2 linked regions of the Homo sapiens genome follow. The protein of the gene in region 1 binds, or shares a complex with, the protein of each later gene. Each region holds a gene or a part of one and is shown in the gene's direction. Other genes may lie near its edges. The genes, in order: SMARCE1 and PHF10.

Region 1 (3,827 bases):
ACCCTGTAGTCAAGCTGGAACTGAAAGCTTGTAGCTATCAAATGAATGTCTATCTTGATAAGCATATTGCTTAGCTTGATAGGTTTTGTTTGTCTAAATTTTTCATTGTTTCTGCATAATATGTACTTCATAAGCATATCAAGTTTTATGTGCCATGCATATTTCATGGTATCTGAAAAAGAATTCTGACAAAGTGTGTGTATGTATGCATTTCACAATGCATACAATTTTTATGTGCATCAATACATGTTTTTCCCTGGCCTAAACATGTTGTTTCACAAGTGTAATGGATGGCAAGGTTTTCAAATGATAAAGAACATTTCAGTTTAAACAATGAACGGAATCAATCATGGATCTTAATGTTAATGCAGCAATTTTTTCACGGGCAGTAAACAAGAATGATTGCATTTAATAGCTCTATACAGTCACCTCTTGATTATCTATGTTAATGGAATAGAAATGATAACTATAATATTACAGTAATTTGTCTTTTGGTTTTGTGTAAGTATTTTGCTCTTAACTTGGATGTAGCTGTGGGGGATTCTCAGTTAAAAAAGTGAGATTGTTCGATGGAGACTAGGAAGAGAAAGTGTACTCCCTATCTGAAGTCACTCATCTGTTTCTTCCCATTCCTTCTTGGCGAATGTTAAGAACTGAACATTTGGCGTGGACACTAGCTACATAGTAGATTAATTATAGAGAGTTGTTGGACATGGAAAATTTGGTGTTTTGGTCCTTTGTGGACATTTACTTTGTATTATTGTCCTCTTAACACCAAATTGAAGTATAATCAAACTGCTATATGAAGAAGGGCCTAGAAAATGTGGAGGTTTTACACTACTTGCCCTGCTTTCTATATCTAGTTTAAGCTGTTAGGACTCAATGGCTCTGATTTTGACCATAATAAAAGCATTTTGATTTTACTATGACCCTAGTTATGCATTACTTTTGGGGGTGAGGGGAAGCTCCTGTATGGTATTGTTGTGCGCAGATTGCATTAGTGGTTTTCAAGGAACGAATCTGTGAAGCCCTGTCCAGTAGCTTGTGGTAGGCTGTAGAGAACATTGGGTTTCCCTGATGACTCCAGTATACTTGGGTAGTTCTCAGACAGTAAATACTTTGTATAGCATGTCGAGACCTTTTGGAGTGCTTATGATAGCTACAAGATGGAATTCACTCCTAGTCAGTTCTTCATTCAGATGATGATTAACATTCTCTTAAGTACAGGTGTGAAAACACATTGAGACAAAAATGTCTTTAAAAACAGCCTATTTCTGTACATTAATAGAAATTCTGCCCCAGAAGAAAGCTCTTAAATAAGTTCTTGCTAGAGAAACAGCTGAGAATTGCAAAAGAAACAACAACAAAAAACTGAGTAACCAAGATAAATTTCACAAAACCATGAACTTTATTCATAGGAGATTTCCTAGGACCTTGCTCTTCTGTAAGCACAGTTCTACCCGCCTCCCCATTGGAAATTGAAAGCAGAAAATTGGAAAGAGAGTTGCTGCTAGAGGTGGGTTTCCTGATAGTAGCAAGGAAAGAAACAGTTCAAAAATGGAAACACATTCTCCAAAAGCATAGCCCCTAGGCCGTTGAAAGAGTCAACAACAGATTTTGACATCTGACAGAGGGTTACAGCACAGCAAAACAGTGGTTGTTTCTAATTGAATCTTATCCAGAAAGGGTCTAAAGTATGTTCAGCTTTTTTTAAAGAAATGTTTAAGACATTGTAGAAAGATGTCTGTCTGAGACGTTAAATAAATTGGAGGTGTGTAATGATATAAATCTTTACTATCCTGAAAACCATCTGGAATTTAACTTTATTATTGTTTTGGGGTGTTTTTTTAGTTTGGGTTTTTGTTGTTGTTGTTGTAAGTTGACTGGTCTCAATATACAGATGATTTGTGTACCTTTCTTTGGGAGAAAGGAGGGGAAATAGCAATTCCATTAATATAAAATGTGATTCTTTGAAAAATATCAAAGAGCAAATACTACTGTGTTTTTAAAGTGTTTTAATTCATATTAAAGCTCGGAAGCATAGGCATTTTAGAATTCTTTACCTCTTTAATTTCAAAAAATTTTGACAGTGGTCTTACCACCTCAGTTATGGGCACAATTCCAACTTTATTTGTAATCCATTTCATGGAATTCTGAAGGTTTGTGTTGGATATGAGTTGGAAATACTTTCTAGTAACTTTATGTGTGAAGAAGCAGACTTGTGTGTGTCTGTTCCTCTGAATCCATAAGGTTAGTCTTATAGGAATTCTCTTTCCCCTTGAAAGAACTATAGACCCTGATACAGGTTTCCCTGTATTGGCTGCCCATCCTACCACTTTTGACAGTTTCCATGCCCCTGGCCATCTCACTCTCTTACCCACTGCTGGCCAAAAACAGTGTCTGTCTACCTGGGCACTAGCATGAGGTGTGACAAGAATGCATGGGAGGAATGGAAAGAGAGGAAATACTGCTTCCAAGGCGAAATGCTTTGAAGAAGTAGAGTTATAGGGATGGAGAGAGACCCTTGTAGGAAGAGGAAACATTTCTTGATCATAGTGGAAAAGGACACAAACATGCTAATCCCTGAGCCCTCAAATGAAAAATAAGGTTATGATTGGGGTCCCAGCCCAGAGTGGAGGAGTATCTCTGGGGTTTTATCATAGCAACAACAGAAGGGGAAGCGAACAAAATGTTACTTTAGTTTTCCTATAAGGATTTGCCAATCCTGTCTTTCGATAATTAAAATAAAGCCAACACTTCATTTCTCCAGCCTAGCAGGGAGAGTCAATATCAGAGATCTCCTGAAAATTTGCAAATTGTCTGAAATAGCAATGATTTTTCTTATTCTGGGTCTTTAATCAAATGCAGTCATGTATATTAACAGGAGACTAAAAAGTTCAGAAATAGATACTTTTAGATGGGTGTTATCTGGGTGGTCTACCAGAGGCTGTCTGGAATCTCACCTAGACTTTAAGCCACAGGAAAAACTGATCACTTTATCTTTCTCTTTCCTTCTTTTTTTATTTTTTCTTTCACCTATTTTTGCTTTACCTTTTTAAAAAATATTTTTCAGTCTTCCCTCCGCCTCCTTTTCTTCTGTCTCTCTTTTCCTGTACATCACATCTTTCCTTTTCCTCTGTCTTTCCCATAAAACTGAACATTTTTAATGGAATGGAGCTTCTTGATATAAGACCTCAAAAATAACGTAATCAGGCCCGATATCTGCCACTTCTCTGTTCCTGATAAACTTGTTTGCTTTTACACTGTGATTAGGACTCAGGACAAAACAATGTGTGACTTTTAATTCACACTTCTCATTCCCCTTTACAAGAAAACCACTAGGTAACAGACAGAACCTTAAGAGAAATAAAATCTCTAGCCTGGCAAAGGAGGTAAGGTGGTTTGTTATTTCACTAATTGTTTTTGTTTTTGAACCTGGGAAGTTGTTTTTGTGGTGGTGTTGGGAGTACATTCCTAGTGCTAATAGGTTAAGGCCCCTGTAGACAGTGTGAGAATGGTAAGTGTTAAGGGTTCAGATCCTGCTGCAGATAATCAAGTGTTGACTGTATGTGTAATGGTAATTGAGCAGAATAAGAGGGTACCAGGTAATGTCCTGAACTTGAGACGGTTGATATATAACCATATATTTTCAATGTATGGGTTACTGTGTAATATTTTATTTGTTCTTGCAGCCAGGTTGTCAAAGCATTGGCAATAAACTGCTAAGTAAAACATTTAAAAATTATGTGCTTAAAGTCATTTTCTTTTGAACATTTCTGAATTTGCAGTGATAGCTATTTTCAGTGAAGAAAATATTTGGACGAATA
Region 2 (3,827 bases), on another chromosome or scaffold:
TTTTCACAGGGACATAAATGCCTAAAGTAGTCAATTAAAATAGTCCTATGAACCGGCTTCAAGTTGAATTGAGAACTGTAAATGATCCATACATTTTTTTCCCCCTGAGCTTGGGTAGGAGAGTTTGCTTTAATCCTAGAGTGATGCAGCAGTTTGATATGTTTATGAAGAGCAGAAACCAAAGCAGATTTGCATTTACGGGTTCATTGAAAATGTTCTTATTTGGATTGGATTGAAGATCAGTTTTAAATTTTATTCCAGGTCTTGCTCATGCCAAACTCTTGGACCCTTTTAATTATAATATGAAGTTAATACTTGTATGACTAGTTGTCCTTAGACAGTCTTTCATTTATTGAGACTTACTGTTCTTTTATTCTTTCTCTAATTATTATTTTTGAATCTTTTAAATGTATAGGATGATAATGAAGATAATTCAAATGATGGGACCCAGCCATCCAAAAGGAGGCGAATGGGCTCAGGAGATAGTTCTAGGAGTTGTGAAACTTCAAGTCAAGATCTTGGGTACTGTCATTTTATCGGTTATTAATATTTTTTGTGATGTTCCTCTTTGCCTTAACATCCTCTTCCCTTTCCCCCAGCTCTGGCAAAGGCAATTATTAAAAATTGTAGAATATTTTCTTCCTGTTCTATAATGTGCCATCAAAGTTGGTCTTGCTACTGAGTGTAATTAAAAAGCAATTTTATGATAGTAAAATACATACATACATAAAATTAATCATTTTAACAATTTTTAAGTGTGAAATTCATTGGCATCAGTTACATTCACAGTGTTGTGCAGCCATTACCACCATCCATTTCCAAAACTTTCACTACCCCAAACTTTATAACCATTAAGCAATAACCTCCCTTTCTCCCTCTATTTAGCGCCTTGCAACCATCATTCTACTTTCTATTTCCGTGAATACGACTACTTAGTTACTTCATATAAGTGGAACCATAAAATATTTGTCCTTTTGTGGCTGGCTTATTTCTCTTAGAACTTTGAATATCTTCAAGGTTCATCTTTGTAGCATATGTCAGACTTTTTTTCTGTTTTTAAGGCTGAATAATACTCCATTTTATGTATATACTGATTTTGTTTATCCATTCAGATGTTGATGGGCATTTGGGTTTCCACCTTCTGGCCAAGGTGAATAATGCTGCAGTGAGCATTGGTGTTCAGAGTTTGTGTTTTCAGTTTTTTTGGATGTTTATCTAGGAGTGGAGTAGCTGGATTATATGGTAATCCTATGTTTAATTTTTTGAGAAGCTGCCAAACTGTTTTCCATAGGGGCTGCACACCAATTTACATTCCTACCAGCAATTCACAGTTTCCAGTTTCTTCATATTTCTCACCAATTTGTTATTTTTCATTTTTTAAAATAATAGTTACCCTAAAAGGTGTGGAGTGATATTTTATTGTGATTTTGATTTGCATTTTCATAATGCCTACTGATATTGAACATCTTTTCATCTGCTTGGCCATTTGTATAGCTTCTTTGGAGACATGTCTATTCAAGTTCTTTGTCCATTTTTTATTTGGGGTTTTTTTTGTTGTAGGAGCTTTTTAAATATATTTTATATATTAATACTTCATCAAAAATATGATTTACACATATTTTCTCCTGTTCTGTGGGTTGTCTTTTCACTGTCTTGATAGTGTCCCTGTACAAAATTTTTAATTTTGATGAAGCCCAAATTTTTCATCTATTTTTTCTTTTGTTGCTTGTGCTTTTGGTGTCATATGTAAGAATCTACCTTCAAATCCAAGGTTGTGAAAGATTTCTATGTTTTCTTCTAAGAGTTTTCTAGTTAGCTCTTATATTTAGGTTGTTGATCCATTTTGAGTTGTGATATGAGGTAAAGGTCCAATTTTATACTTTTGCATGTGGATACCCAGTTTCCCAGCACCATTTTTGAGAACACTGTTCTTTTTGAAGGTTACTTTTTAAATAGATGGATGCATAACATAGTGTCACTTTCCCATGTCCAATATAGAGGTTGAATTGGCCCATATCCTGAAATCTGTACTCTGTTACTCAGGATGGAGATCGACTGTGATACCCTGGCACCTTCAAACTAGGTCCATTCTTTGCTTCTGGGTTTGTGGAGTATCTGAGAACAAACAGTTACGGTTTATGATATGATGCACTGAGATAATAGGTTTTTAAGAGTTCTGTTTTCTCAGCTATTTATGACTCACTGAACAGTAGACAAGAGACAGAAGTTGATTATTCTTTGGGTGGATGAAATACTGGCTATGCATTTTAAGCCCAAGAGAAAGAAGTCAGAGCTGATACCATCATCACCTTGCTTTGCCCTCATAGGTCCTTTAAACTAAAAATGCCTTCGTTCTTAGCAATTGTGATTCTACGTTCTTCCCAGTGTATAAAAGATGTTATTTTCACATACCTTTTTGACTTGGTAGACCAGATAATTATTTCTATTCCTTGTACCTGTTTTGTAATTTTCTTTGATACACAGGAAGTCAAGTCATAGGAGGCAAATAATTTAAATACTTAAAATAGTTTTCAAAATATCCTCAATAAAAGTGATTAAAAATTAATGAAAGCTACATTTAATGCATAATATGTATTTCTGTACTTAGTTTTAGTTACTATCCAGCAGAAAACTTGATAGAGTACAAATGGCCACCTGATGAAACAGGAGAATACTATATGCTTCAAGAACAAGTCAGTGAATATTTGGGTGTGACCTCCTTTAAAAGGAAATATCCAGGTACTAGTTTATATAATAGATTAATTTATAATTGATAGTAATTCTTTATGATACACTGTCAACTTCTGAATTTTTCTGTAGATTATATTTTATATTCTTGTGCTTGCTGTTTTTTTTTAAGACTAAGGGTCTCATTCTGTAACCCAGGCTAGAGCGCACTGGTGCGATTATAGCTCACTGCAGCCTTGCACTCCTGGGCTAGCTGTCTCCCTGCCTCAGCCTTCTAAGTATCTGGGACTACAGGTGTGCACCACGACGCGTGGCAGATTTTTTTAATTTTTATTTTTTTAGAGATGTGAAGTCTTGCTATGTTGCCCAGCGTGGTCTCAAACTCATGGCTTCAAGCTATCCTGCTGCCTCAGCCTCCTGAATTGCTAGGATTACAGGTGTGAGCCACCACGCCTGGCTGTGTTTCATTTACTGCTATCATTCAGCATCACTCTTCATTATTGATATTTTCTATGGCTCATAAACTGATTTAAAAGCAAAATGGGAAAGGTGAATTTCCTGAGGAAAATTTTAGAAAAAATCATTTTATAGTCAAGTTTGGGATTTTTACCATTGTTTCTTGATCTAAGGAATAGAGTTAGCTATATGAGCCGTATCTGAATTTGAGAAAGGCTATTCCTCATGAACTAGTTTAGTATAGTTATTTATATGACCTTCTTGCTTTGGATTATTCTATTTCCTATTTTATTCTAACTTTTGTATCTTGCTGAGTTTTATTTCTTGAATTTATAAATTTTTTTGTAGCCCCTTTAATAATATTTGGAATATGTAATATGAATACTTTAAAAAGTCAAGGTTTTTAAGCTTTTAAAAGTTTTACAAGTGCATAAGGTTTTGCTGTTTTTAATAGTCTTTTGATCTTTTTTTTGGAGATTTAGAGCGACGAGATTTGTCTCACAAGGAGAAACTCTACCTGAGAGAGCTAAATGTCATTACTGAAACTCAGTGCACTCTAGGTAAGAATAGCTTTTTAATGTGAATTTTTCAAGCTGAACATTTATGAGATAATACTAGATAAGTATCTTATTTCCTAAAATATTTTACAAAATTAATAAAATAAATTGAACTATTTAAATGCT

Evidence for each region.
Region 2: SMARCE1 (region 1) and PHF10 share a complex: the UniProt entries of both Homo sapiens proteins name them as parts of the neural progenitors-specific chromatin remodeling complex.

Annotation. Positions count from the first base shown.
Region 1 is NC_000017.11:40,637,670-40,641,496, reverse strand, and holds part of SMARCE1 (SWI/SNF-related matrix-associated actin-dependent regulator of chromatin subfamily E member 1), read left to right. Parts: intron 1-3,827. UniProt on the Homo sapiens protein: Involved in transcriptional activation and repression of select genes by chromatin remodeling (alteration of DNA-nucleosome topology).
Region 2 is NC_000006.12:169,717,700-169,721,526, reverse strand, and holds part of PHF10 (PHD finger protein 10), read left to right. Parts: intron 1-415; coding exon 416-522; intron 523-2,608; coding exon 2,609-2,739; intron 2,740-3,620; coding exon 3,621-3,704; intron 3,705-3,827. UniProt on the Homo sapiens protein: Involved in transcription activity regulation by chromatin remodeling. Belongs to the neural progenitors-specific chromatin remodeling complex (npBAF complex) and is required for the proliferation of neural progenitors.